2 separate regions of the Homo sapiens genome follow, and region 2 is linked to region 1. Evidence: fine-mapped expression QTL. A gene starts in region 1. The other region holds a variant in brackets. All regions are shown on one strand. Distances are between the middles of the regions. Region 1 holds the start of FBXL19 (F-box and leucine rich repeat protein 19). Region 2 overlaps BCL7C (BAF chromatin remodeling complex subunit BCL7C).

The links.
Region 2: its variant is fine-mapped to the expression of FBXL19 in monocytes after LPS (Quach 2016, PIP 0.95).

Annotation. Positions count from the first base shown.
Region 1 is chr16:30,912,438-30,927,563 of GRCh38, reverse strand. FBXL19 (F-box and leucine rich repeat protein 19) reads right to left here and starts at 3,992. Exons shown (of 11, transcript NM_001382779.1): 1 at 3,105-3,992; 2 at 1,633-1,833; 3 at 113-256. The coding sequence starts at 1,809. FBXL19-AS1 (FBXL19 antisense RNA 1) reads left to right here and starts at 4,295. Exons shown (of 1, transcript NR_024348.1): 1 at 4,295-8,245. RefSeq lists enhancers at 4,074-4,233, 4,274-4,363, 3,986-4,953, 4,394-5,213, 4,954-5,922.
Region 2 is chr16:30,876,704-30,891,829 of GRCh38, reverse strand. It overlaps BCL7C (BAF chromatin remodeling complex subunit BCL7C), which reads left to right. Exons shown (of 6, transcript NM_004765.4): 5 at 2,885-2,970; 6 at 3,840-4,035. The coding sequence ends at 3,965. The region is part of intron 2 of MIR762HG (MIR762 host gene); the gene reads right to left. Among named protein-coding and RNA genes, the nearest start is that of MIR762HG, 8.8 kb to the right of the region's middle. RefSeq lists enhancers at 3,873-4,374, 8,690-9,190 and a silencer at 6,806-6,885. The variant G/A (reference allele first, on the strand shown) is at 7,435.

The DNA of each region.
Region 1 (15,126 bases):
GGAGGGCAGTGAGTGGGGGGTTGGCCAGGAAGCCCAGAGCCAGGGTGATCCCCCACTCTCTGCTCCCTGACAATCTGCCCCACCCCAGACGCCGGGGTCCCAGGGCCATCACCTTCAGGCAGCCGGGGTGGACGATCTCGTTGCAGATTGTACACTCCATGAGGCTCAAACCAAATTTCTCTTCCTCTCCCTCCACCGTGTCCTCCTTCCCAGCCTCCCCACACAAGAGGCACACAGCTGTGTGTGGGAGCACGGGCTGTTGGGGGAGAGGGGACATCAGGGGCCCCGAAAGCTAACAACAGGGGAAAGACCCTTCCTTCTAGGGACCCTGGCCAGGTGACGGATGAGGTGCAGCACCCACGGGTCAAGCTGGGTCTGATCCTGAGTTTGCTCCTTTTGGGAGTGTGACCTCAAGCAACTGATTTAACCTCCTTAAGTCTCCGTTTCTGCATCTGCAGAATGGGGCTAAGAATCTTTCCCTCGCAGGACTCTTGGGAGAGCAAAATAATACGCGAGAGACACTGATATGTAGCTGTTATCACCTGTGACTGTTATAGCTGGACCCAGGGCCAGTGGGACCCTGAAATTACAGCTGGCTTTGGAGAGGAGGACAGTAACACTCAGAGGGTGGGGAAGACAGCTTAGGGTGATACCAAGGTCGCTCCATGAGCAGCCCAAGGGTTGCTCTGAATCCCACAATGAATCCGGTTTTGGCAAGACCCCCTGGGAACACTAGGGAAGCCACTAGTCTTGGGGAAGTGGGGGCAGCCTCAGACAGTGTGACTTTGAGGAAGACAGTGGTAGGACTGAGTCATAACAAGGATGCGGCAGGATCAAGGAAGATGCAGGTAGGGGGAGAAGGAAAAGTGAGGCAAGGGGTTGGGGGATAAAGGAAAAGAAGTGAGGGGCTGAGGGGTGAAGAGACCAACCAGGAAAGAGTGGCAGGAGGAAGAGAGGGAGGTGGCAGAGTGGGGAGGGGGACGCAGGATGCAGCTGGCTCCTCGCGGCTGCTGGGGAGGGGCCGTGCTCTGGAGCCCAGGGAGGCTCAAAGGATGAGGAAGGCAGGGCGGAAACCCATGCTTCCCCGATCCCTACTGTGTGCTGGGCCTTGTGGTAGACACACTCGCATCCATGCCATTGTTTAATCTTTACAACTCAGCAAAGGAAACATTTTACAGAGAAGGAACCTGAGGTTCATTCAGCATGATTTGCTCAAGGTCACATAAAGGGTGAGCTTAGCCTCAAATCCAAGACCACCCTGGGTGAGGAAGAGGCCAGAGAAGGGCAAGACCTGTTGGAAGGGGGCCATCTCTGGGGATGGGCCCCCTCCTGCACAGAGACATCTTGGGGGGTGATAGAGCAGGGGCTGGGCATTCTGCGGGGGTGTGACTCTGAGAGCTGGGAAGAGCCTGAAAGTGGGGACTGGGTCAGATCCTTCTGTGCACCTGGACACTGCCCCCAGCTTGGAGCTGAGGACAAAAATGGATACTGACACAAACTAGTGAATGAAGGGAAGAAATGAACGAGTGAACAAACAGCCACTCCACAGTACAGGCTGGGAGGCAGTCACCAGCCATTCCAAGAAGGTATTGGGAAGGGTGGGCAGAGCCCAAAGGTGGGGGCAGAACTCACGGCAGTGCACTGCCGGAGCAGGCACGACTGCTTCATGCGCCCGGGCCCCCCGAACTTCTTCATGTCTCGGCAGAAGTGGCAATCCCCGCACTCAGTTCGCACACAGGCCCGGCAGCGGCGGCAGCGGGTTCGGCGTCGGCGCGCTCCGGCCCCCGGCCCCCGGCTGCTCGACGACATTGGGGGCGTCAGCAACGCCGAGGGCTGTAGGTGGATGGTGGCAGGGTCAGATGGGCCCACTGGGGCCCTGGCCTGGGAGACCCCTGACAGGTCCCTCCACCTACAGGCAGCTAGAGCCTGCCCTCTTCCTCAGGGGGACAAGGAGGTCACCCCCTTCTGTGTATCTGGGGGCCAATCCTCTACTCAAGGCCTGTCTCCCTGCAGCAGCTCAAGAGGAGCCCAAGAACTGCTTCCTGGCCTCGCTCCTCTACCGCCTCCTCAGGGTCCCTTCCCTAGCCCAGGGAGCAGGAGGGGACACCGAGGCCCTCTCCTCTGCCATCCCCACACCGGAGCTCCTTGGAAAGGCCAGGCACTCCTTGTCCGTGGTGTTAGCTTGGAGAGATCCCAACTCTTCCCCTGTTATCCGAGTGTAGAATATCCCAGGCTCTCCCCAACCTCAATCTGGGGTAAACTGCCCAGATTCACCTCCCAGATACCCAGAGATTCCTAGACGGAAGCTCCGGACTTTTCCTCCCCCCCGCCCCACCAACCTTTTCATCCACAGCAGCCATCCAATCTCTCTTCCCCTCAACCCAGTTATCCTCACCAGATCCAGCGAGATCCTTGCCCCCAAGTCCCTAACGATCTCCTCTGCCCACTAACTCCCCAGAGCTCTGACAGCCCTGGAGATGCTTCTTCAGAGACCCTTCTCAGCCCAAGATCTCAGCCCCTCTTGTTCCCCACAGGGTTCCCTCCTCCAGGACACCCTCCTCTTGGATCCCTCAGGTCCACCTGGGCAATCTCCCAAATTCCTTGGGATTCTAGAATCCAGCCTGACATCTTCCCAGAACTGAGGATGGGCTCAGTCCTAGGACCCCCAGCTTCCCGGGCTGCTTTCATCCCTAATCATCTAGAATCCCTTGGGCTCCCCCTCCCATGGAAACCAGATCCTCCAAGATCCCATGTGGAATTAGAAGCCTGGAGGGTCTCTTCCCAGTCAGTCTTACCCCAGATTCCCCCTTTCCGGGGACTTTCATACCCATCCATGGGGCTAAGGGGCCCTCCAGCGCTCCAGGGGAGGGGCCTGGAGGGCGGCGACTGCAGGCGGGGGTGGGGGCTTTCAAGGGGAAGCAGGGTCTAGGAAGGAGGGCCAGTTCCCCAGGGTGGAGAGGTCATAGGAAGGAGGGCTGGAGATGAGTTTGGAGTAGAGAGAGGGTGAGGCTGGGGGCGGGGAAGGTAGAGAGAGGCCGGGCTGAGGATGAATGGGAGTGGGCGCTGCCCAGGTCTGGGGGTGAGGAGGAGCCGCATGAACCCACCTCACACGTGTCCCGGGAGCCATCTCTCCCTTCTCGGCAGCTCCCGGCGGGTCGGCGGCCATCGGCGGCGGGGGGGCCGGGCGGCGCGGGGCGCGGAACGCTCAGAACGCCGGGGTCCACGGCCCCCCGAGGGCGCTCGGCCCCTCCCTCCGGCGGAGGCCGGGACGGCGGCGAGTGGAGATGGGGGGCGCCGGGGGCGAGGCCCTCCCACGGGCTGCGGCGCGGCCCTTCCAGGGGGAGGTCCTGCTCTGGGAGGCTCAGTCCCTCAGCCCCCCCAGGCCAACGGGGGCTCCTTGGGCGCAGGGTGCTCAGCTTCTGCCCGGGGCCCACTCAGTCCCGGGTCCGAGTCCCAGCTCCCCTCCCCCCACCCCGCCCCGCCTCTCCCCAGCGCCCCTGGCCCTTTAACTGGCCCCTTCCCGGACCCCACTGCCCAGGGGTCCAGTGCCAGGCCTGGGCCCCCCCCACCGTTTCCGGGGTTCAAGCCCGCCCACCGCCGGTTCCCGGGGAGGGGGGGGTCGCTGTAACCTGCCCCCCTCCCCTGGGCCCGCCCCTGGACTGCGACCCCCTGCCCTACGGCTGCGAGGCGAGCGGAGGGGGAGGTGAAGGAAGCTGCTCCGGCCCCGCCCCCCCCAGCCCGCGCGCACCCCCGACCTCTCCCCCTCCCCCAAGCGCGCGACCCTCGGGAGATAGGGATTTAAATAAAATTTGAATAAATCCCCCTCCTCAAGCGGGAGGGTGGAAGGAAAGGATAGAGGGGGAGAGGGAAAGGGGAAGGGGGCAGTTGGGGTGTCTCAGCCCCCCTGGTCCCCCAGCCCCGCGCTGCTACGGCCCGGGGCCCTGGCCGCCTCTCTCATCCCTCCTCAGCTCCTTCCTCCTTCCTCCTCTCTTCCCCCCTCCCCTCCCCTCCCTCCTCCTTCCCTCCTCCTCCTCCTCCTCCCCCTCTTTACTCCCTCCTTCTCCCAGAGGAACCCCGCCCCCTTCCCCCTCCTTCCTCCACCACCTCCACTTTCCAGGACGAACGCACGCAGGGCTCGACGGGAGTTGTAGTCCTGCGGCCACTGATGCTACGGGGGAACAATAGGACGCTGGGGACAGCGGGAACTACAAACAGGACGGCGGAGGGCGTGCCCAGCCGGGAGCCGAGGATGCCGGGAGTTAGAGTCCCGTTGCCCCGAGGCTCCCAGTTGCAGAACATCGAGAAGGAGAGGGAACGATGACTACAAACAAGATGGCCTTCTCCCCCGACCCGACCTCCTTCCCAGGCACTCACACGCCCTCCTGTCCACAACCCTCCGCGTGTGTGGTACCTGACGGGAGTCGCAGTCCATCTGCTGCCTTCCCGCTGCCATTTCTACTCGTCAGGAACAATGGAAAGGTGAAAAGGAAAGAGGACTACAAGCAAGATGGCGGAAGAGGGACATACACCTGACTAGTAGTCGATCTTACGAGGTGCGATGGGATTAGTAGTTTTATAGCCTTCCAGTGTTCCTTAAGAATGGCGGAACCAGGAGGACGAGGAGACTACCGTAAAGATGGCAGGCTACCTAGCCTCTCCCGGTCTCCGCTTTCCACCACCTTGGGCACCTCGCCCGCCTGTGGTCTCGAAATCCCCCCCACCAGTGGCGCACGGCCTGACGGGAGTTGCAGTCTCCCGGCTCCCGTCTATCATCTCAAGTCGAGACAATGGAAGGGGATGGGGCGGGGCCACCGGCAAAGATGGCGGCTGCAGGGCCGGGGCGACTGCGACATGGGATGTGTAGTCCAGGCGTCTGGCCTCTTCCCTGCGGAAATGAGGGAGAGGACTACGAAAAAGATGGCGACCTCGCCCCTCGACCTCTGCGCCGGTGCCTGCTGGGAAATGTAGTTCCTTGCCGAGTCCAACAGAGAAAGGACGTCGCTGTTGAAATGTGAATCCCGGCGGACACGCCAAATTGCGAGGCGACGGAAACGGAAAGACTCTTTTCTCCTCTCTCCGCCACCGGCTTCTGAACAGCCTGGCGGGAAATGTAGTCCCAAGCTTTCACTCGCGAGTGGAGGGGAAGGATTTATGTCACCAGTGGGGATCAGTGCGGGTGGGGGAGAAAAACGTCGGGCGATCCGGGAATAAAGAATGTCCGCCTCTCCATGGGGCGAGGACTTCGCGTTTCAGGGGAGGGCCCTTAAAGGAAGGCAGCAGGAATCAGTCTTGTCGAACAGGGGGGCGTGGTTCTCGTCGAGAGTGCATTCACACTCTTGTTCCCTAGAAAGCCTGGGCACCTCCCACTCGATTCCTGCTCCTCAGACCTCCGGGAATCAGTGTCTTACAAGACGTGCGGGCTCCGGGGAAAAGGACCTGGAGTCACAGCGAATCCCCGCCCCGCCCCGGGAAGCCACCAAACCTTGCTTTTTCTCATCTGCAAAATGGGGACAATGGGGATAATGATCCCCACCTCGAAGCACAGTTGTGAGTGTTAAACAAGCCAATGTTCTTGTCACCAAAGTGCCCAACTCTGGCACGGGGCACGCGGTGGTAGATCCCTTTCTAAGGTCCCTTCCAGCCCAGCCGTTCTGGGAGCCCAGGAATCCATGATGCCGGACAGAGTTCGCTCCTGTGAGAAGAAAACTGACCCGCAGGCTCCTCCCAGATTGAACCGACCCCCGCCCCTCCTCATCGGGGTCCTCCAGCGTCTGTTACCGAGCACTGCTCCCAGGGGGCGCTCAATCTCCATTCGACTGAGGTACTACAAACACGATTTCCGCAACCTGGAGTTGGAGGCATTGCAGGCTGTCCAGCCTCATCCCCTGCCTGATATCCAGTCAGCCTTGGAGGCCTCTGCCTAGACACTTCAACTGCCTATGCAAATGGAACGGCTTCTCATCTTTCTGCCGTTTTTTGGTTTTTTTTGTGTGTGTTTTAAGGTCTTGCTCTGTCACTTGGGTTGGAGTGCAGTTGCAGGATCATAGTTTGCTGCAGCCTCGACCTCCTGGGCTTAAGCGATCCTCCTCCCTCAGCCTTGTGAATACCTGGGACTTCAGGCACGCGCCACTACACCCAGCTAATTTTTAAACTATAATTTTTTTTTGTTCAGACGAAGTCTCGCTATGTTGCCCAGGCTGGTCTCGAACTCCTGGCCACAAGTGTGCCTCCCGCCTTGGCCTCCCTAAGTGTTGGGATTATAGGTGTGAGCCAGCAGCCATACCCCTCTTCTCAATCTTCCTTCTCCCCTGGAAAACCTGCTCACTTCTGACCCCAAGACAGCCCCCTCCCCTTCCCTCTGTCTTCTGTGTTTGGCAGACCAGCCCCAGCGAGGACTTGTTGGTTGTGGTTTTTCTATCAGGGAAGTCAATGGCTGGCCAGTGTAGTGTGAAGTCCCAGCTTGGCAGAGACTTGCCCAAGGCTGGATAGGAGGCTTCTTTGCCGCTCAGGCTTTATCAGTCAGGAAATCCTTAGCCCTCCCTAGAGGATTGGCTGTCCCCTCTATCCTCACTGCTTGAATTTGGTGTTGCATGATTGATTTCTACCCTGTTCCCTCTGCTTGAGGGCTATCCTCCCCATGCCCATCTCACTTCTCCACCAAGTTCACTGTTCATCATTTACAGGTCTCTATTTATGTATTTATTATTTATTTTTCTACTTTCCCACTTTTCTAAAAGGTCTCTATTTAAATGCCACTGTCAATCCCAGCACTTTGGGAGGCCTAGGCGGGCGGATCATGAAGTCAAGAGTTCGAGACCAGCAATGGCCAGTATGGTGAAACCCTGTCTCTCCTAAAAATACAAAAATTAGCCGGGCATGGTGGAATGTGCCTGTAATCCCACCTACTCGAGAGGCTGAGGCAGCAGAATTGCTTGAACCCGGGAGGTGGAGGTTACAGTGAGCTGAGATCGTGCCACTGCACTCCATCCTGGACGACAGAGTGAGACTCTGTCTCAAACCAATCAATCAATCAATCAATCACTGTCCTGGCCAGTTGCAGTGGCTCACGCCTATAATCCCAACACTTCGGGAGGCCAAGGTGAGAGGATAACTTGAAACTAGGAGTTCAAGACCAGCCAAGGCAACATAGTGAGGCCCCATCTTTACAAAAATACAAAAATTAGCTGGACGTGTAGTCCCAGCTACTTAGGAGGCTGAGGGGCAAGGATTGCTTGAGGCTGAGAGATTGAGCCTGCAGTGAGCTATGACGATGCCACTCGCTGCATTCAAGTCTAGATGACAGAGCAAGACCCTGCTCCTGGACATACTACTAAGTGCTTTCAGCATTTCATGTGGTCCTCATAAAAATCTTGAGGGCCGGGCATGGTGGCTCACGCCTGTAATCTCAGCACTTTGGGAGGCCAAGGCAGGTGGGTCACCTGGGGTCAGGAGTTCGAGACCAGCCTGACCAATATGGTGAAACCCCATCTCTACTAAAAATAGAAAAATTAGCCAGGTGTAGTGGTGTGCACCTGTAGTCCCAGCTCTTCAGGAGGCTGAGAAAAGAGAATTGTTTGAACCTGGAAGGCGGAGGTTGCAGTGAGCCAAGATCACAGCACTGCACTGCTGCCTGGGCGACAGCGAGACTCTATCTCAAAAAAAAAAAAACCCACACAACCTTATGAGGTAGAATTCCATTTTAGAGACGAGGAAACTGGGACCCTCAATTATGCAGAATGGATGAGTGGTACCGCCAAAATTCAAACCCCAGACTCCCGAACTCATGCTCAGAACTATTACAACATGCAGAAACAACAAATCCAGTCATGTGTGCATTTAATTTGGCATAGCAACAACAACACATTTCTCAGGCAAAATGGATTTCCAGCTTCTCTTGAAAAGTCCTGAAATCTAGTCCAGGACCGTGGATTGTATTTAAAAAAATAAAAATAGAAGAAGAAAAGGCCGGGCATGGTGGCTCATGCCTGTAATCCCAACACTTTGGGAGGCTAAGGCAGCTGGATCACTTGAGGCCAGGAGTTCAAGACCAGCCTGGCAAACATGGTGAAACCCCGTCTCTATTAAAAATACAAAAATTAGCTGGGCGTGGTGGCGTGCACCTGTAGTCCCAGCTACTCAGGATCCTGAGGCATGAGAATTGCTTGAACCTGGGAGGCAGAGGCTGCAGTGAGCCAAGACAATGCCACTACACTCCAGCCTGGACAACAGAGCGAGACTCAGTCTCAAAAAAAAAAAAAAAAAAAAAGGGCCGGGTGTGGTGGCTCATGCCTGTAGTCCCAGCACTTTGGGAGGCCAAGGTGGGCGGATTACCTGGGGTCGGGAGTTTGAGACCAGCCTGACCAACATGGAGAAACCCTGTCTCTACTAAAAATACAAAATTAGCCAGGCACAGTGGCACATACCTGTAATCCCAGCTACTCAGGAGGCTGAGGCAGGAGAATCGCTTGAACCGGGGGGGCAGAGGTTGCCGTGAGCCAAAATCATGCCACTGTGCTCCAGCCTGGCAACAAGAGTGAAACTCAAAAAGAAGAAGAAGAAGAGGAGGAGGAGAAGGAGAAGAAGAAAGGAAGAAGAAGAAGAAGAAGAAGAAGAAGAAGAAGAAGAAGAAGAAGAAGAAGAAGAAGAAGAAGGAGAAGAAGGAGAAGAAGAGGAGGAGGAGAAGGAGAAGAAAGGAAGAAGAAGAAGAAGAAGAAGGAGAAGAAGAAGAAAGAAGAAGGAAGGAAGAAAGAAGAAGGAAGGAGAAGAGGAAGAAAGAAGAAGAAGGAAGAAGAAGAGGGAGGAGGAAGGAGAAGAAGGAAGGAGGAGGAAGGAGGAGGAGGAAGGAGGAGAAGGAGGAGGAAGGAGAAGAAGGAAGAAGAAGGAGAAGGAGAAGAAGAAGAAGGCGGTTTTTATAGCTTCTGCCTAGAAGTGACATGTCAATTCAGCTCACATTTTATTGACCTGTCAAATAGCTAACCCTGGCCAGGCAAGGTGGCTCATGCATGTAATCCCAACACTTTGGGAGGCTGAGTTGGGCAGACTGCTCAAGCCCAGGAGCCCAAGGCCAGCGTGGGCAACTTGGCAAGGCTGTGTCTCTGCAAAAGAATACAAAAATTAGCTGGAGTGGTGGTGCACATGTGTAGTCCTAGCTACTCGGGAGGCTGAGGTGGGTGGATCGCTTGAGCCCAGGAGGTCCAGGCTGCAGTGAGCCATGATCGAGCCACTGCACTCCAGCCTGGGCGACAGAGTGAGACCCTGTCTAAAAATATTACAGAGATAGGCCGGGCGTGGTGGCTCACGCCTGTAATCCCAGCACTTTGGGAGGCCGAGGCGGGTGGATCACGAGGTCAGGAGATTGAGACCATCCTGGCTAACACGGTGAAACCCCGTCTCAACTAAAAATACAAAAAATTAGCCAGGAGAGGTGGCGGGCGCCTGTAGTCCCAGCTACGCAGGAGGCTGAGGCAGGAGAATTGCGTGAACCCCGGTGGGTGGAGCCTGCAGTGAGCCGAGATCGCGCCACTGCACTCCAGCCTGGGCGACAGCGAGACTCCGTCTCAAAAAATATGTATATATATTACAGAGATAGCCATAACTAATTAAAGGGGTTAGAGAAGCCAACTCTTGCCACATGCTTGGGAGAAGAACTAGAAAACCTGTGGACAGCCCTTATGACAAGCACAGCTTCCTGCGGTTCCCAGGGGAAGTTAGTGCCACAGGATGGAGGCTTTTTCTGGGATACCACCCACTGCAAGGCACCCAATAATTGAACTCTTGTTATGTGGGATGGCAACATCGATATAGAACAGAGGAGTCTGATTGACACTGACCAACTTGGGCGAGTGAACGGAAAATGCCTCTGTGAGAAGCTCAGGGTCAGCCTTGGGATCAGCAATCACCAAAAAGCCAAGCTCTCCAAGCTGCAGTGGATCTGGTTACTGAAAATCCCAGAAGTGAAGTGCCCAGCAGTGTGTATGGCTTCAGATGGCCGAGGAACATGTTAGTAGACTTCACTGGCCAGTGATCCTGGGGGAATGGATGGCATCAATGGCTGGGTTTGGGTTTATTTTCTTTTTTTAGACAGGGTCTTGCTCTCTTGCCCAGGCTGGTGTGAAGTGGTGCAGTCATAGTTCAATGCAGCCTCGACCTCCTGGGCTCAAGTGATCTTCGGCCTCTGGAAGTGCTGGTATTATAGGCATGAGCCACCACACGAGGCCAATAGCGGGGTTTCTACTGGCAAAATTAAAAAAAAAATCAAAATCAACTGGGTATGGTGGTGCCCACGTGTAGTACCAGCTACTCGGGAGGCTGGGGTAGGAGATTGAGCCTGGGAGGTCAAGGCTGCAGTGAGCCATGACTGAGCCACTGCATTCCAGCCTGGGGAACAGAATGAGACCTCATCTCTAAAAATAAAAAATACAAATAAATAAATACATAGTTGGCTACCATTGAAAATATTTAAATATCAATCTAAGATTAAATAATTTAAAAAGTCTGAGGTACAGAATGGAATATACTATACATGTTATGAATACTAGTAAATTGAAAGTAGTAATATAATGAAAAAATCTGGGTGTAGGGGAAGACTGAGGAAAATATTAAAAATAAATAGCGACTGGGCTGGGCATGGTGGCTCATGCCTGTAATTTCAGCACTTTGGGAGGTCAAGGCAGGCAGGTCACTTAAGCCCAAGAGTTCCAGACCAGCCTGGCCAAGATGGTGAAAACTGGTCTCTACTAAAAATGTAAAAACTACCCGGGCATGGTGTCGCATGCCTGTAATCCCAGCTACTCGGGAGGCTGAGGCTTGAGGATCGCTTGAACCTGGGAGGCAGAGGTTGCAGTGAGCCAAGATCGCGCCACTGCACTCCAGCCTGAGCAACAGAGTGAGACTCCGTCTCAAAAAAAAAAAAAAAAAATGAACAAAGACAGGATTTGAGCCAAAGCCCACTGCCTCCTAAATTGCTGGGATTCCCAAGAATTCAGCTTCTAGTGTGACCAAAACAAAGATGGAGACAAGTCGCCCTGCAGGGTAGGGCACAATGGAGGTGGGGGTGGGAGGGCAGAGCTGCTGACCTCTGACCTCTGCCAAGGCAGACGCATTGGACAACAGAGCAGGACCTGAGGTGAGGCTAATTCCTCCAGGTGTGAAGAAACACCTTAGGGGGGCCAGGCGCAGTGGCTCACACCTGTAACCCCAACATTTTGGGAGGCTGAGGCAGCCGGATCACCTGAGGTCAGGAGTTTGTGACCAACCTGGCCAACATGGTGAAACCCTCTACTAAAAATACAAAAATCAGTTGGTGTGGTGTCAGGCGCCTGTAATCCCAGCTACTCGGGAGGCTGAGGCAGGAGAATCACTTGAACCTGGGAGGTGGAAGTTGCATTAAGCCAAGATTGTGCCACTACACTCCAGCCTGGGCAACAGAGCGAGACTCTTGTCTCACAAAAATAAAATTAAATAAATAAATAAATAATGAGTTTATCCTTCATGGTTTTCAAATCTTTTTTTTTAAACTTGGAAGAATCTTACAGGAAATATTATTTATAGTGAAGAAACATTTATCTGAAGTTCCACAGTTCTTTCAATTAAACTTCTATTTCTGTTCCTTTTGTTAAATTCAAATAAAGTTAAATGTAATTTTAAAAATAGGATATCTAGTATTAATTGATTGTCATAAAATCTTTTTCTATTTATCTGATCAGGTGTCTAGAATGATGCTCACTAAATGTTAACAGTCATAGTTATTTCTGGGTGGTAAAATAGGGTGGTTTGTTGGTTTCTTCTTTGTTCATTTATGATCTGCTTCAAGTTTTCTAATGAACAGGTATTTTAACAATAATGATAACGTTATTAATCTTTTTCTTAAGTACTATTTTTTTTTCTTTTTTGAGACAGAGTCTTGCTCTGTCGCCCAGGCTGGAGTGCAGTGGCGCAATCTCAGCTCACTGCAACCTCCACCTCCCGGGTTCAAGATGGGGTTTCATCATGTTGGCCAGGCTGGTCTCAAACTCCTACCTTGTGATCTGCCCACCTCAGCCTCCCAAAGTGCTGGGATTACAGGTGTGAGCCACCGTTCCCGGCCTTTTTTTTTTTTTTTAAATACAGGATCTCACTCTGTCACCCAGGCTGGAGTGCAGTGGGGTGATCACAGCTCACTGAAACCTTGACCTCCCAGGCTCAAGTAATCCTCCCATCTCAGCCTCCCGAGTAGCTAGGACTACAGGTGCACACCACCTTGCCTGGCTAATTTTTGTATTTTTTTGTAGAGACAGGAGTCTTGCTATGCTGCCCAGGCTGGTCTTGAACTCCTGACCTCAAGCGATCCCCTCACCTTAGCCTCCCAAAGTGCTAAGACTACAGGTGTGAGACACTGCGCCCAGCACCCTTGCCTCTGTTCTGAATGGGCCCCACTGTGTGGTTTTCTGGACAACACTGGGTCATGCTTGAGCAAAGGTACCAGATCTCTTGGGAGCACATGTGTAGCCGGGGCATGGGGCTGGGCTCCAGGCACAGGCTCATGGGACATTGAGTCTTTGCCATTGGTTGGCGGCATTATATGTTACTGGGGCAACCCTTGACAAGCCCAGGAGAGGCCTCATAGGAGGGGTCAGGGCACTTGGTGGGTGTGCCCTGTGAGTTAGAACCTGTGAGTGGGAATTATTATCCCAGTTTCCAGATAAGGGAGCAAACTGAGGCTCAGAGAGGTTAAGGAACTTGTCCAAGCTAGTGATAAACAAAGGCAGGAGCTGGGCGCAGTGGCTCATGCCTGTAATCCCAGCACTTTGGGAGGCTAAGGCGGGCAGATTGCTTGAGGCCAGGAGTTCAAGACCAGCTTGACCAACATGGCAAAATCCCGTCTCTACTAAAAATACAAAAAATTAGCCGGGCCTGGTGGCACACACCTGTAATCCCAGCTACTTGGGAAGCTGAGGCTCGAGAATTGCTTGAACCTGGGAGGCAGAGGTTGCAGTGAGCCAAGATCACTGCACTCCAGCCTGGGTGACAGAGTGAGACTGTCTCAAAACAAACAAACAAAAAAGATGAACAAAGGCAGGACTTGAACCGAAGCCCACTGCCTCCTAAATTGCTGGGATTCCCAAGAATTCAGCTTCTGGTGTAACCAAAACAGAAGATGAGCTGGCCTGCAGGGTGGGGCACGATGGGGGTAGAGGGGGCAGAGCTGCTGACCTCTGACCTCTACCGAGACAGATGCCTTGGACAACAGAGCTGGGCCTGGGATGCGGCTAATTCCTCCAGATGTGAAGAGCACCTTGAGGGGGCTGGGCGTGGTGGCTCACGCCTGTAATCCCAGTACTTTGGGAGGCCAAGGCAGGAGGATCACTTGAGGTCAGGAGTTTGTGACCAGCCTGGCCAACATGGTGAAACCCCGTCTCTACTAAAAATATAAGAATTAGCCAGGTGTGGTGGCATGTGCCTGTAATCCCAGCTACTTGGGAGGCTGAGGCAGGAGAATCACTTGAACCCAGGAGGTGGAGGTTGCAGTGAGCCGAGATCACACCACTGCACTCTAGCCTGGGTGACAGAGCAAGATTCCATCTCAAAAAAAAAAAAAAAAAAAAAAAAAGACAGGCCCATGGCTCACGCCTGTAATCCCAGCAATTTGGGAGGTCGAGGAGGGTGGATCACGAGGTCAGGAGATCGAGACCATCCTGGCTAACACAATGAAACCCCGTCTCTACTAAAAATACAACAAATTAGCCGGGCGTGGTGGCAGGCACCTGTAGTACCAGCTACTCGGGAGGCTGAGGCAGGAGAATGGTGTGAACCCAGGAGGTGGAGGTTGCAGTGAGCCTAGACCATGCCACTGCACTCCAGCATGGGCAACAGAGCGAGACTCCGTCTCAAAAAACAAAAACAAAAACAAAAGCCACCTGGGGTGGGGGTCAGAGAGAGAGAAAGGGAAGCCCCAGAGAGAGGCGGGTGGTGGTGGGCTCTGGTGGGGTTAGCCTGCCCTCCCAGGTGAGGCCTGCCCCATGTAGGCCGTCCACCTGTGAATAGTACCAGATCGAGTATCTGCCTCACTCTCCCCCTCCTGTACCTCCTCTTCCCCCTGCTCTACTACCATGGCACGGCCCATGCCTCGGTGCACCCACTTAATGGGCCTCCTATAATCCCCTGATATCACCACCTGCCTGGCACAGGCCCTGCCGGCCAGCCCTAGCAGCCCCCAGCCTTGGAGAGCCTGTTTAGGACCCCTCACCTCAGAATCCATCTTTTCCTTCAACCTCCTCCTTCCTTCAGCTCACAGTTCAGATCTGGAACCCCACAGCCAGCCCCAAGCTGGGGACAGGAGTCCAGCATCTGCCCTGACTCTGCTGTGTGACTCCAGGTAAGTAGCCGCCCCTTTCTGGGCCTCAGGCTCCTTATCTAAGTATTCCGAACACCCAGCTCATCACACCAACCTGTCTGGGCTTCTTCTCAGCACCATGTCACTTTAGGAAACCTTGCTGTGTGTTAATTCACATGTTTCGTGCTGGTCTCCCCGACCAGACTGTGTACCCGTGAGGCAGGGACCTTACCTGCCTCATTATTCACCCTGGTGCTGGCACACAGTAGGTGCTGTGTTAATAGCTACTGGGGTCAGGTGCAGTGGCTCACACCTGTAATCCCAACATTTTGAAAGGCCAAGGTGGGAGGATCACTTGAGCCTGGGAGGTGGAGTCTACAGTGAGCTATGATGGTGCCATTGCAGTCCAGCCTAGGGAACAGAGCAAGACCCTGTCTCTCTCTCTTTTTTTTTTTTGTTTTTTTTGAGATGGAGTCTTGCTTTGTCACCCAGGCTGGAGTGCAGTGGCACGATCTCAGCTCACTCCAACCTCCGCCTCCCAGGTTCAAGTGATTCTCCTGCCTCAGCCTCCCTAGTAACTGGGATTACAGGCCTGTGCCACCACACCTGTCTAATATTTTTATATCTTTAGTAGAGACAGGGTTTCACCATGTTGGCCAAGCTGGTCTCAAACTCCTGACCTCAAGTGATCCACCCACTTCAGCCTCCCAAATTTCTGAGATTACAGGTATGAGCCACCACGCCCAGCCGACCCTGTCTCTTTTTTTTTTTTTTTTTTTTTTTTTTTGAGACGGATTCTTGCTCTGTGGCCCAGG
Region 2 (15,126 bases), 36 kb after region 1:
CCATGCCCAGCCAATTCTTAAATTTTTTGTAGAGGTAGGGTCTCGCTATGTTGCCAAGGTTGGTTTTGAACTCGTGGCCTGAAATGATCCTCCTGTCTCAGCCTCCCAAGGTGCTGGGATTATAGGCGTGAGTCACTGTGCCTGGCCCTATGTGATCTTGTTCACTACTGTATCCTCAGAATAATATGGGACACATAGTAGGTGCTCAGTAAATATCTGTTGAGTGAATAAATAATAGTGATAGTCATAGGGGTGATTAACAATAATAGGAATAACAACAGCTAGTATTTATTGAGCTCTTACTGTGTGCTAGGTGCCCTGGTAAACACTTTACGTGGTTGGGTTTTTTTCTTTTCTCTTTTTCTTTTCTTTGAGAGAGTTTCGCTCTTGCCAAGGCTGGAGTGCGACGGCACAATCTTGGCTCACTGCAACCTTCACCTCCTGGGTTCAGGCAATTCTCCTGCCTCAGCCTCCTGGGTAGCTGGGAATATAGGCATGAACCACCATGCTCGGCTGGTTTTGTATTTTTAGTAGAGTTGGGGTTTCGCCATGTTGGCCAGGCTGGTCTCAAACGCCTGACCTCAGGTGATCTGCCCGCCTTGGCCTCCCAAAGTGCTGGGATTACGAGCCACCACGCCCAGCCTTTTTTTTTTTTTTTTTTGAGATGAAGTCTTGCTCTGTTGCCCAGGCTGGAGAGCAGTGGTACGATCTTGGCTCACTGCAAACTCTGCCTCCCAGGTTCAAGCGATTCTTCTGCCTCAGCCTCCCATGTAGCTGGGATTACAGGCATGCCACCATGCCCGGCTGATTTTTGTTTTTTTTGTTTATTTGTTTGTTTGTTTTTGAGACAGAGTTTCATTCTTGTTGCCCAGACTAGAGTGCAATGGCACAATCTCAGCTCACCGCAACCTCTGCCTCCCGGGTTCAAGCGATTCTCCCGCCTCAGCCTCTCGAGTAGCTGGGATTATAGGCATGCACCACCATGCCCCGCTAATTTTGTATTTTTAGTAGAGACGAGGTTTCTCCATGTTGGCCAGGCTGGTCTCGAACTCCCGACTTCAGGTGATCCGCCTGCCTCAGCCTCCCAAAGTGCTGGGATTACAGGCGTGAGCCACCGTGCCTGGCCTAATTTTTGTATTTTTAGTAAAGATGGAGTTTCACCATGTTGGCCTGGCTAGTCTCGTACCCCTGACCTCAGGTGATCCGCCCGCCTCGGCCTCCCAAAGTGCTAGGATTACAGGTGTGAGCCACCGTGCCCAGCCAACACTTTACGTGTTTTTTTCTCATTTAATTTTTACTACAACCTTATAAGGGTGATGATCTTGTTATGATCCCTATTTATAGATGAGGAAACTGAGACCCAGAGAAGTAACTCAGCCAGTGAGCCAGCATCTTGGGCCTGTGTCCTCATCAGCTCTGCTTTTTTTTTTTCCTTTGAGATGGAGTCTCACTCTGTCACCTAGGCTGGAGTGCAGTGGCACGATCTTGCTCACTGCAACCTCCGCCTCCCAAGTTCAAGCAATTCTCCTGCCTCAGCCTCCTGAGTAGCTGGGATTACAGGCTGCACAACACCACACCCGGCTAATTTTTGTATTTTTAGTAGAGACGGGGTTTCATCATGTTGGTCAGGATGGTCTTGAACTCCTGACCTCGTGATCCACCTGCCTCGGCCTCCCAAAGTGCTGGGATTACAGGCTTGAGCCACCGTGCCCAGCCAGCTCTGCTTTCTTCCATGCAGTCAAACCCGTCTGATTGGCACCTCTTCCTCCTAGGCTCCCTGTCCCTGGCCTTCCCATTTCTCACCCGTTTTTGGTTCCAGCTGGTCTCTTCTAGTCACCTCCACACAGCTGCCAGAACAACTTTTTCCTTCATTTTTTAAGCTTTGCTTTTTTTTTTTTTTTTTTGAGACAAGGTCTCACTCTGTCGCCCAGGCTGGAATGCAGAGGCGTGATCACGGCTCACTGCAGCCTTGGATTCCTGGGCTCAGTCAGCCTCCTGAGTAGCTGGGACTACAGGCATGCATCACCATGCTCAGCTAATTAGTGTTGTTATTCTTTATAGAGACAGGGTCTTACTATGTTGCCCAGGCTGGTTTCAAACTCCTAGGCTCAAGCGATCCTTCTGCCTCAGCCTCCCAGAATGTGAAACCCTGTCTCTACTAAAAATACAAAAAATCAGCGGGACGTGGTGGCACATGCCTGTAATCCAGCTATTAGGGAGGCTGAGGCAGGAGAATCACTTGAACCTGGGAGGCGGAGGTTGCAGTGAGCCGAGATCGCGCCACTGCACTCCAGCCTGGGGGACACAGCGAGACTCTGTCTCAAAAACTAAAACAAACAAACACACAAAAAGAAAACCCTGATGTGGGCCTGTGGACTGGGTCTGGGTCTAGACAGTGCCAAGCAGTTGTATACCTTTGCTAATATAAAAATGGTAGCAAGCATTTATTGAGCACTTACTGTGTGCCAGCCACTGTGCTTTACCTGCATCCGCTCATCTGACCCTCACAACAGCCACATGAGGTAATTACTATCATTATCCCCATTTTACAGATGGGGAAACTGAGGCCCATGGAAATGAAGTAGCTGGCCCAAGGTCAGGATTTGAACCCAGGCAGTCCAAGCCCAGAATCTGTGGCAACTTAGCATGCATTCCCTCTGTCTCACGTGTCATACTTTCCTGTCCACCGCATCACCCTCGAGCTCCCACATCAGTGTTCCCTCCTCTGCTTCCTGGGGCACAGCCAGGTTCCTGCTCTCTCCTCTCTGCTCCCATGGCCCTCTGCCCTCTGTGACTGGGGCCTGTGACCATCTGTTTCCCCCACTGTCTGTGCTGCTGGCACAGAGTGGCTGTTCAGGGGATGTTTGTTACCTTGACGTTCCAGATCCCGGGGGCATAACTGCTGGCAGCACCGACGAACCCCCAATGCTGACCAAGGAGGAGCCTGTTCCAGAACTGCTGGAAGCTGAGGTGAGAGAGGCCAGAAGGCTGGACTCCTGGGTCTTGGAGGGAATGGGGGATCTGGGCAGTCGAAGGCTTGGAGCCTGCGTCCTGAGGGCCTGGAGGAGAGGCAGACCTGGGACAGAGCTGAAGGCTTAGGGGCTGGGTTCTTGGGACTGAAAAAGAAAGGGTGTTTCAGAGACAAAGTGCTGAGGGCTGGATCAGGGCTGATTGAGACCATTAAAAGCCTGACAAAGCTGGGCGTGGTGGCTCACGCCTGTAATCCCAGCACTTTGGGAGGCGGAGGCGGGTGGATCATGAGGTCAGGAGATCGAGACCATCCTGGCTAACACGGTGAAACCCCGTCTCTACTAAAAATACAAAAATTAGCCGGGCGTGGTGGCACGTGCCTGTAGTCCCAGCTACTCGGGAGGCTAAGGCAGGAGAATTGCTTGAACCCGGGAGGCGGAGGCTGCAGTGAGCCAGGATCGCGCCACTGTACTCCAGCCTGGGTGACAGAGCGAGACTCCTTCTCAAAAATAAATAAATAAATAAAGCCTGACAAAATCATGGCGCTCCTCCATGCATTTTCAAAAAATATCAAAAAATATCTAACTGTATAATTAGCATAAGAAAATTCCTTATAAACCTCTGACATTTCTCACGAGGCTACCTCGAGGCATTTTCAGAAATATCAAATATCAGGTTCGTTCCTCCACACAGTGTCACTGTCGTTGTTGTTTTTGGTGCCTGCTTCCTCTGCATCCTGGGCATCTGGCCCTGGGCTTGCCTCCCGGGCCCAGGAGGGGAGGGGAGTGGAGGCTTTGGAGAAGGCAGAGGCTCAGAGGCTGGACGCCTGGGTTCTGTGGAGCTCACGCCTGTCCACCCTTCCTCTCCAGGCCCCCGAAGCTTACCCTGTCTTTGAGCCAGTGCCACCTGTCCCTGAGGCAGCCCAGGGTGACACAGAGGACTCGGAGGGTGCCCCCCCACTCAAGCGCATCTGCCCAAATGCCCCTGACCCCTGAGAAGCCGGCCTGCCTGTCCTGTTGCCCCAGGGGCCCCTTTGGCTTTTTACAAATAAAGACCCTTTTGTAATTTTGTGTCATGTCATTTCCCCGTCAGGGCTGGGGAGGGTCTTTGGAGACAGTTTTGTCTCATGCACCATTGCTCAGATGTGGTCACTGAGGCTCTGAGAGGACCTTCCTGTAGTGACACCACAAGGCAGAGTGGGGTGGGGGCTTGAGCCAGGACCCTGCCTCTCAGTACTTCCCAGGTCTGTCCTATCTCCCGACCTTCACCTCCTCCTCTGGGAGGCCCAGGACCCCTCTTCCTGCTCAGCCCTCGCCTGGGCCTAACAATTATCAAAACTCTGGGTAGCTAGGCCATGATTCTTTTTTTTTTTTTTTTTTTTTTGAGACACAGACTTGTTCTGTTGCCCAGGCAGGAGTGCAGTGGTGCGATCATGGCTCACTGCAGCCTTGACATCCCACCTCAGCCTCCCAAGTAGCCGGGACCACAGGTGTGTGCCACCATACTCAGCTAATTTTATTTATTTATTTATTTATTTATCACTATTTTTTTTTAGAGAGTTTTGCTCTTGTTGCCCAGGCTGGAGTGCAATGGCGCAATCTCGCCTCACTGCAAACTCTGCCTCCTGGGTTCAAGCAAGTCTCCTGCCTCAGCCTCCTGAGTAGCTGGGATTAGAGGTGCCTGCCACCACGCCCGGCTAATTTTTGTATTTTTAGTAGAGACTGGGTTTTGCCATGTTGGCCAGGCTGGTCTCAAACTCCTGACCACAAGTGATTTGCCCGCCTCGGCCTCCCAAAGTGCTGGGATTACAGGCATGAGCCACCATGCCCAGCCTGCTAATTTTATTTTTTGTAGACATGGGGTCTCGCTACATTGCCCAGGCTGGTCTTGAACTCCTGGGCTCAAGTGTTCCTCCTGCCTTGGCCTCCTAAAGTGTTGGGATTACAGGCGTGAGCCACCGCGCCCAGCCTATTCACGTTTCATACATAATAACACAGAGGCCCAGAGGGACTTGGGGGCCTGGGATGACCAACCCATTCCCTGCCCTGAAGAAGCCACTCCTCCACCTGGGATGCCTGGCCACACTTCTGGTTGGGTCTAACTTATCCCCATCTCAATCACCATCTCCTCCGAGAAGCCTTCCCTGACTCCAGGCTCAGTGAGTTTCCCCTTTTTTGAGCTCCAGCAACCCCTTGGGCTTCATTCTCCTTGTTTCATCATTTATCAGGCTGTTCTGGGATCCGTGGTTTGTGTGTCTGTCTTGTCTACGAGGCTGTGGGCTCCTGAGGGGTCTCCACACAACACTGGGAACAGGGCAGTCCCAGCAGCTGCTTCATGAATAAATGAATACATGAATGGGCTGGGGTTTTCCAGGCAGGCTTCTCTGAGGAGGTGGCATGTGAGCTGGGCTCTGAGACATGAACCTCTGTGCTAGAACTCAAGTCAGAAGCCCTGGTTCAAGTCCTGGCTCTGTTACTCCCTGAGTGGCTCTAGGCAGGCTGTTTCTACTCTCAGCCTTAGTTTGTTCATCTGAGCAATGGGAACAATAACTAGGCCTCATCTGCCCCAGGGGTTTGTGGGAAGCTTCGAGTAATATAAGGCCCTCTCACTCTGTGCCTATAGGGTCATGTATATTGGCCCTATTTTTATTTTTAATAAAGAAAGATACTGAGGTTCAGAGAGGACCAAATTGGAACTTTAAAGAAGCATTAAAAACTGTAGGCTAGGTGTGGTGGCTCACACCTGTAATCCCAGGCCTTTGAGAGGCACAGGTGGGAGGACTGCTTGAGGCCAGGAGTTTGAGACCAGCTTGAGCAACAAAGCAAGACAAAAATGAAAAAATTAGCCAGGCATACTGGTGCGCGCCTGTAGTCCAAGCTTCTTGGGAGGCTGAGGTGGGAAGATTGCTTGAGCCCGGGAAGTTGAGGCTGCAGTGAGTGATGATTGCACCACTGTGCTCAAATCTGGGCAACAAAGCAAGACCCTGTGTCTAAACAAACAAAGGAAATGTAAGGATGCTTCCGACAGCAGCTGCAGTGGTGTTGGTGGAGCCAGTGCTGTCCAGGGAAGCCAGGCTTGCTGCAATGTAGTGTAACTGTTTCTTATCACTGCTGTAACAAATTGCCACACATATAGGGGCTCAAAGCCACAGACATTAGCCAGGCACAGTGGCTCATGCCTATAATCCCAGCACCTTGGGAGGCCGAGGTGGGTGGATCACCTGAGGTCAGGAGTGTGAGACCAGCCTGACCAACAAGGTGAAACTCCGTCTCTACTAAAAATACAAAAGTTGGCTGGGCATAGTGGCGGGCGCCTGTAATCCCTGCTACTCGGGAAGCTGAGACAGGAGAACTGCTTGAATCCGGGAGGTTGCAGTAAGCCGAGATCGCACCACTATACTCCAGCCTGGGTGATGGAGCAAGACTCCATCTCAAAAAAAAAAAAAAGAAAAAGCCACAGACATTGATTCTCTTACAGTTCTGGAGAAGTCCAAAGTTAGTCTCACTGGGTTAAAGTCAAGGTCTCAGCAGTAGTTCCCTCCAGAGGAGGATCTCTTTCTTTGCCTTTTCCGGCTTCTAGAGGCTACCTGCAGTGTAGCATCTTCCAATCTCTCTCCATCGTCACATCTTCTCTAACTCTCCTGCCTCCTTCCTCCAAGGACCCTGTGATGACACTGGGCCCATTTGAATAATCTAGGACACTCTTCCTATCTCACAATCCTTAGTTTCATCACACCTGCAAAAGCCCATGTGCCATATAAAGCAACACATGCACAGATTCTGGGGATTCAGATGTGGACTTCTTTGGAGGGCCATCTTCATGGTAATGTCGGCTGTTTGCTGGGTGTGTGGCCACCTCATGACTCCCCTCAACCACTCCCGAGGGAGGAGAGTGTTCTGTAAATGGGAAAGTCCCTTGTGTGGGTTAGTGGTGCAGTGTTGAAGCTCAGAATTCAGGTTCCGGGTTTGAATCTCAGCATCTGCATTCATTTGTTGTATCACCTTGAGCAAGTGACTGAACCTTTCTGTGCATCTGTTTTCTCATCTATAAAATGGAGATAATAGGCCAGGCATGGTGGCTCACACCTGTAATCCCAGCACTTTGGGAGGCTGAGGTGGTTGGATTACTGAGGTCAGGAGTTCAAAACTGGCCTAACCAACATGGTGAAACCCTGTCTCTACTAAAAATAGAAAAATTACTTGGGCATGGTTGCGGGGCATCTGTAATCTCAGCTACTCAGGAGACTGAGGCAGGAGAATCTCTTGAACCCGGGAGGAGGAGGTTGCAGTGAGCTAAGATCACGCCATTGCACTCCAGCCTGGGCAAAAGAGGGAGACTCTGTCTCAAAAAAAAAAAAAAAAAAAAAACAAATGGAGATAGGAGATAATAGTGACATCAGCCTGATGAGAGTATTCTGAGAGTTAAATTAGGCCACACATGGAGAGACAGCCTTTGGCCTGGGAC[G/A]TAGTAAGTGCTCAATAAATGGCAGGTTTTGTCCTATTGCCCCATGTTACAAATGAGGTTACCAGAGACTCTCCTGTCCCTGAGGCTGGGGACAGAAGCCTGGCCCCAGACAGGGTGTCCATTTCTGAGCAGCCTTGAGAAGCTAAAGTTTGAGTCTCCCCCATTCTTGACTCTCTCCTGGTCACGGGGCCTAGGAAACTGTCCTGATTCCCCCCAGGCATGCCCCCACCCTCTCATGCCCCATTCTTTGACCTGGCTTTTTTTTTTTTTTGAGACGGAGTTTCGCTCTGTCGCCCAGGCTGGAGTGCCGTGACGTGATCTTGGCTCACTGCAAGCTCCGCCTCCCAGGTTCACGCCATTCTCCTGCCTCAGTCTCCCAAGTAGCTGGGACTACAGACACCCACCACCTCGCCCGGCTAATTTTTTGTATTTTTAGTAGAGACAGGGTTTCACCGTGTTAACCAGGATGGTCTCGATCTCCTGATCTCGTGATCCGCCCGCCTTGGCCTCCCAAAGTGCTGGGATTACAGGCCTGAGCCACTGCGCCCGGCACTTTGACCTGGTTTAAAAGCCAGTTTGGGCCTGGCGTGGTGGCTCACACCTGTAATCCCAGCACTTTGGGAGGCCAAGGCAGGCGGATCACTTGAGGTCAGGAGTTCGAGACCAGCCTGGCTAACACGGTGAAACCCTGTCTCTACTAAAAATACAAAAATTAGCCAGCCATGGTGGTGCATGCCTGTAGTCCCAGCTACTCAGGAGGTTGAGACAGGAGAATCACTTGAACGTGGGAGGCGGAGGTTGCCTGGGCAACAGAGTGAGATTCCATCTCAAAAAAAAAAAAAAAAAAAAAAAAAAAAAAGCCAGTTTGGCTGGATATGGTGTCTCACACCTGGAATCCCAGCACTTTGGGAGGCTGAGGCGGGAGGCTGAGGCGGGAGGCTCGCTTGAGCCCAGGAGGTTGAGGCGGCAGTAAGATATGACTGTGCCACTGCACTCCAGCTTGCATGACAGAACGAGACCCTGTATCTTAAAAAAAACAGTGAACATGGTAAATTTAAAAAGCTATCTCTTCCAGAGCCACAGCCCTTATTTACCACCTTGCTGTCTCCCCTTTCCACCTCCTCCCCAAATTCCACACTCTATTTGTGGAAATCCTTCTACCCCTGGCTCTCGGGCCCCACCTCTGGGGCTCACTGACTCCTCCCCTCTGAGCCCTCATCTGTCCTTGGGCACTCCCCTCTTCCTGGTCTGGGAACTGTCTCTTGCCCTGGACTTGCTTCTCTTTGTGCACACTCTCCCTGCTGGGTCCCACCTGCCCTTTGAATCAACAGTTCCTCATTCTCTGACTCTAAGTTCCACCCCCACCTCCAGACTCCAGGAGCCAAATGGCTGCATCACATCTCCATTGGGATATCCCAGAGACCCCAGCCTCATCCTCCCCACAACCTATTCCTACCATCCCAGGAGCCAGCCAAGATGGTGACACCAGAAGTCAGAGTCACCTTCCAGGAACCACCACGTCCTGTTAGGTCTCTGTCTTAAGTAATTTTCCAGTTAGCCCCTTTCTTCAGGGCAACACTGCTTTACTAGGTGCCAGCAAAACTAACAGCCTCCTGGTGCCCACCTCCAATCCATGCTCCACCCAGTAGCTGGGCAATCTTTCAGAAACCCAAATCTGTCCATGCCACTGCCCCCAGTTAGAACCTTCCTGTCCTTACTACCTGCAGGATGGAGCCCACAGCCTGCTGCATACCCACACCTGCAGTCACTCTCTGAACTGCTCACAGCCCCCAGATGCCTGCTGCCATCTCTCACCCCTTGGGTTTTGCTCACACTGGCTGCTCCACCAGGAAAGCCCCTCCCTTCCCCTCTTCGCCTGGCAGATGCCAAAGCAGTTTTCAAGTCTCAGCTTCTGGGGTGTCTCTTCTGCCTTCCCTCAGCCCCTGACCCCTCCTCTGCTATGTCGTGAAGTGGTGGCTGTTGCTTTGTAGTGGTCCCTGTCTGCTTGGTTCTTCAGCACCAGCCTGCAAGCCCCAGGAGGGCAGAGGATTCCCTTTATTCATAGCAATAGGTACTTATTGTGTACTTACTGTTTGCTGGGCACTGTTCTAGGACCTGAGGATGCAGCTTAAAGAACACAGAATAAATGGCCGGGCGTGGTGGCTAGCACTTTGGGAGGCCGAGGCAGGCAAATCACCTGAGGTCAGGAGTTCAAAACCGGCCTGGCCAACATGGTGACACCCCATGTCTGCTAAAAATACAATAGAATTAGCCAGGCCTGGTAGTGGGTGCCTATAATCCCAGCTACTCGGGAGGCTGAGATGGGAGATTCACTTGAACCCTGGAGGCGGAGGTTGCAGTGAGCCGAGATCGCACCACTGCACTCCAGCCTGGGTGAGTGAGATTCTGTCTCAAAAAAAAAAAGAACACAGGAAAAAAAAAAATCCCTGCCCTCATGGCACCTGCCTTCAGGCAGTTATATCCTAAGCAGGAAGTTAGAGTGCGCTGGAAAAAGCAAGCACAGAACGGGAGATGGGGAGAGAGCAGGGTGTGATTTTAAGCGGGGGCGAGGCAGGGGCCTCACTGAGGCAAAGGCTGAAGAAAAGCTGGAAGGAGGTGAGGGAGAGAGCCTTGCAAGTTTCTGGGGAAGGGCATTCCAGGCAGAGGGAATGGCCAGGGCAAAGGAGAGCCAGTGTGACTGGAGCGGAGGGAGGGAGGGGCAGGGGAGTGAGTTCAGGTCAGCTGGGCCTCGCAGGCAGGGCAAGCACTTAAATTATCCTTCACACTGGGAGAATGAAAACAAGGGCAGTACTAATCACGCTGGGAAGGCAGGCAGAAGCTGGGCCAGCAGAACTTATGGTCGCCCTGCTCAGAGGCCACTGTCAAGACTTGGCTTTTCCTCTGGGTATCGTGGAGTGTTCTGAGCAGAAAAGCATAATCAGACTTAGGTTTTGTTCCTAATTTTTTGTTGTGTGTGTGTGTGTGTGTGTGTGTGTGTGTGTGACGGAGTCTCACTCTGTCACCCAGGCTGGAATGCAGAGGTGCAATCTCGGCTCACTGCAACCACTGCCCCCTGGGTTCAAGCGATTTTCCTGCCTCAGCCTCCCAAATAGCTGAGATTACAGGCACTCGCCACCACACACAGCTAATTTTGTATTTTTAGTAGAGACAGTGTTTCACTATGTTGGTCAGGCTGGTCTTGAACTCCTGACCTCAGGTGATCCACCCGCCTGGGCCTTGCAAAGTGCTGGGATTACAGGCATGAGCCACGGCACCCGGCCTGCAGGCACATTGTTAACTACAGCCCAGTATTCATTCACAGGTTTTTTCCCCCGTCTTTGATGTAAAATATCTATATAGTAAAATGCATAGGTGTTAATTGCTTGATTCAGTGAATTTTAACAAAAGCATAGTGCCAGGTGCGGTGGCTCACTGGGAGGCCAAGGCAGGAAGGTCATTTGAGTCCAGAAGTTTAAGACTATCCTGGGCAACATAGTGAGACCTCATCTCTACAAAAACTTAAAAAAAAATTAGCCGGGCATGATGGTGCACACCTTTAGTTCCAGCTACTTGGGAGGCTGAGGTGAGAGGATCACTTGAGTCCAGAAGTTCAACACTGCAGTGAGCTATGATTGTACCACTGCACTCTAGCCTGGGCAACAGAGCAAGACCCTGTCTAAAAAAAATAAAAATAAAAATAAAACCAGAACAAAACAAATGCATACATCTGCATAAGGAAACTGTTCTCAAATACAAAACATCACTATCACTTGCCAGAAAGTTCCCGTTGCCCCCTTCTCATCTCCAACTCCCCAGAGTCAACCGCTGTTCTGACTTTTTTTTTTTTTTTTTGTATTTTTAGTAGAGACGGGGTTTCACCATGTTAGCCAGGATGGTCTCAATCTCCCGACCTCGTGATCCGCTCACCTCAGCCTCCCAAAGTGCTGGGATTACAGGCATGAGCCACCGCGCCCAGCCTGTTCTGACTTTTTTAATAAGACAGGGCCTTGATCTGCTGTCCAGTGTGGAGTGCAGTGGCATGTTCACAGCTCACTAATTTTTTTTTGTATTTTTTGCAGAGACGGGGTCTCACCATATTGCCCAGGCTGGTCTTGAACTCCTGGGCTCAAGCGATCCACCTACCTCTGCCTCCCAAAGTGCTGGGATTACAGGTGTGAGCCATGCACACAGCCTTTTTGTTGTTGTTCAAACAACTTTAATGATGCCACAATGTCTGTCCTCCCCCAAGTAACTGGGTAAAGTGTTTTTTTTTGTTTGTTTGTTTTAGATCATAGCTCACTGCAGCCTTGAACTCCTGGGCCCAAGTGATCCACCTAAGCTTCCCGAGTAGCTGGGACCACAGGCATGTGCTACTGCGCCCAACTACTTAACATTTTTTTTTTTTTGAGACGGAATCACGCTCTGTCACCCAGGCTGGAGTGCAGTGGCGTGATCTTGGCTCACTGAAAGCTCTGCCTCCCGGGTTCACGCAATTCTCCTGCCTCAGCCTCCCAAGTAGCTGAGACTACAGGTGCCTGCCACCATGCCCAGCTAATTTTTTTGTATTTTTAGTAGAGATGGAGTTTCACCATTTTAGCCAGGATGGTCTCGATCTCCTGACCTCGTGATCCGCCCGCCTCAGCCTCCCAAAGTGCTGGGATTACAGATGTGAGCCACCGTGCCCAGTTTTTTTTTTTTTTTTTTTTGTAGAGAAGGGGAGTCTCTCTGTGTTGCCTAGGCTGGTCTGGAACTCCTGGCCTCAAGGGATCCTCCTGGCCTCACAAAGTGCTGGGATTACAGGCGTGAGCCACCACACCTGGCCTGATTGTTTTAAAGTAACGGATTGGGTGAACCTGTTCTGGAACTTCATGTAAATAGAATTAAGCAGTATGTAACTCTTTTGCATCTGTTTTCTTTTACTCAGGCTAATATTCTTGAGGGTCATCCGGATTATTGTGTGAATCAGTAGTTTGTTCCTTTTTACTGCTAAATTATATTCCATAGGCCAGGATCACTCTGCTGGGTGGAGAAGAGATGGGCCCTGCCAGGGCTCAGAGACTCAGGTGAATGCACCACAGGGAGATGGACAGCCTTTTCTTAGGAATTTCTAGAATGCGAAGTCTGTGGCATCAGTCTCCCCAAAAATCTGGGAAAACAGAACTACATCAGGAGAATCTAGCATGACCAAGCATCCCTGTTTGCCCAGGACTTTCTTGGTTTTAGCACTGCAGGTTCCATGTCCCAGGAGACACCCCAGTCTTGAGCAAACTGGGATGGCTGATCACCATCACCCTAGCAGGATCCTGCCACTGCCCTTGGGGCTTCCGGACCCTTTTCACACAAGATTACATTCTGTTCCTCCTACAGAATGATTTTCCTTAAACTCTAAACTGGGCTCCTCTCCTGTTCTAAAACTTCCCATGGCTCCCCATGGCTGAGCCTGGCAACTGAAAGCACGTAGTCTCTGGTAGTGTGCATACTGGAATCACCTGGGGAATCATTTAAATATTCTGATGGCTGCCTTCTACCCTTGACATTTTTTTTTTTTTTTTTGAGACGGAGTCTCGCTTTGTCACCCAGGCTGGAGTGCAGTGGCACGATCTCAGCTCACTGCAACCTCTGCCTCCCGGGTTCAAGTGATTCTTCTGCCTCAGCCTCCTGAGTAGCTGGGATTACAGGTGCGTGCCACCACGCCCAGCTAATTTTTGTATTTTTAGTAGAGACTGGGTTTCACCATGTTGGTCAGGCTGGTCTCAAGCTCCTGACCTCGTGATCCACCCACCTCGGCCTCCCAGAGTGCCAGGATTACAGGCGTGAGCCACCACGCCCAGCCACCCCAGACATTTTTGTTTTTTTTGAAATAGAGTCTCGCTCTGTCGCCCAGGCTGGAGTGCAGTGGCACGATCTCGGCTCATTGCAACCTCTGCCTCCTGGGTTCAAGTGATTCTCCTGCCTCAGCCTCCCGAGTAGCTGGGACTACAGGCGCGTGCCACCACACCCAGCTAATTTTTTTAAATTTTTTTATTTTTAGTAGAGACGGGGTTTCACCGTGTTAGCCAGGATGGTCTCAATCTCCTGACCTTGTGATCCGTCTCCCTCGGCCTCCCAAAGTGCTGGGATTACAGGCATGAGCCACCACACCCGGCCCCACCCCAGACATTTTACATTGGTATCATGTGCAACCTGGGCCCTGGGATTTTTTGTTTTGTTTTGTTTTTTTGAGTCTTGAGTTTAGCTCTATCGCCCAGGCTGCAGTGCAGTGGCATGATCTTGGGTCACTGCAACCTCCGCCTCCCAGGTTCAAGCCATTCTCGTGCCTCAGCCTCCCAAGTAGCTGGGATTACAGGTGCCTGCCACCACACCCGGCTAATTTTTGTATTTTTAGTAGAGATGGGGTTTCACCATGTTGTCCAGGCTGGTCTCGAACTCCTGACCTCAGGTGATCCACCCGCCTTGGCCTCCCAAAGTGCTGAGATTACAGGCATCAGCCACTGCGCCCGGCCAAGGGCCCTGGGATTTTTACAAGCTCCTCAGGTGATGCTAACATGCTGCAAAGCTTGGAGCTGTGAGCCTGTGAATGTGATTTGTTTGGCTTACATGGTGTTGAACATGTTGGCAACATTAAAATCAAGTGATTTCATATAAAAATCTGGACTAGGCTGGGCGCGGTGGCTCACGCCTGTAATCCCAGCACTTTGGGAGGCCGAGGCGGGTGGATCACGAGGTCAGGAGATCGAGACCATCCTGGCTAACACGGTGAAACCCCATCTCTACTAAAAATACAACAAATTAGCTGGGCGCGGTGGCGGGTGCCTGTAGTCCCAGCTACTCGGGAGGCTGAGGCAGGAGAATGGCCTGAACCCAGGAGGCGGAGCTTGCAGTGAGCCGAGATAGTGCCACTGCACTCGGGCCTGGTGAAAGAGCGAGACTCCGTCTCAAAAAAAAAAAAAAAATCTGGACTCAGGCCGGGTGACGTGCCTCACACTGTAACCCCAGCACTTTGGGAGGCTGAGGCAGGAGGACTGCTTGAGCCTAGGAGTTGAGGCTACAGTGAGCTATGTGTTGCTACCCTTCAACCTGCGCGACAGAGCAAGATCCTGTCTCTACCAAAAATAAAAAAAGAAATCTGGACTCCAGCTACCCTTGAAAGCAGATATTCTGAGATACTGAGTTTGCCTCCTGGAGTGGTCATGGGGCGGAGGTTGGTGGGGTAGGGGGGTAGGGGGTGCAGAACACTGACTGCCCTGGGGGCGGAGTCTCTGCCCTTCAGTCCCCGCAATCCCTACCGCTCCCTGGTGTTCCACTCTCCTCCTTGCTGTTCACTTGCATGGCCTCCAGGCTAATGGCTGAGTTTTGCGGCCAGGCATTTCAGGCCTCCCAGCCTTGGCCTCTGCTCACCTTCTCCACCTCCTCACTCCCTGCTCTAGTCATCTTCATCTCATGTCCTGCCCTCCAGCCACATGGGCTTCTTGGTCCCTTCCACACCTGTTTTTGCCCATGGAGTTCTCCCACCAAGTTCCTTATGGTAGAAAAGCCCCTGCTGGATTTGGCCCCTGCCCACCTCTCCTGCCCCTTTCCCCAAGCTTTCTTCCAACTCATGCATAGAACTTCTACCACAAGGAAGCTGGCCAGGCTGTTAGCACTCCCGTTCCCTCTGTCTGTGAAGCCCTTTCCTTCCCTCCACCCTCCCCT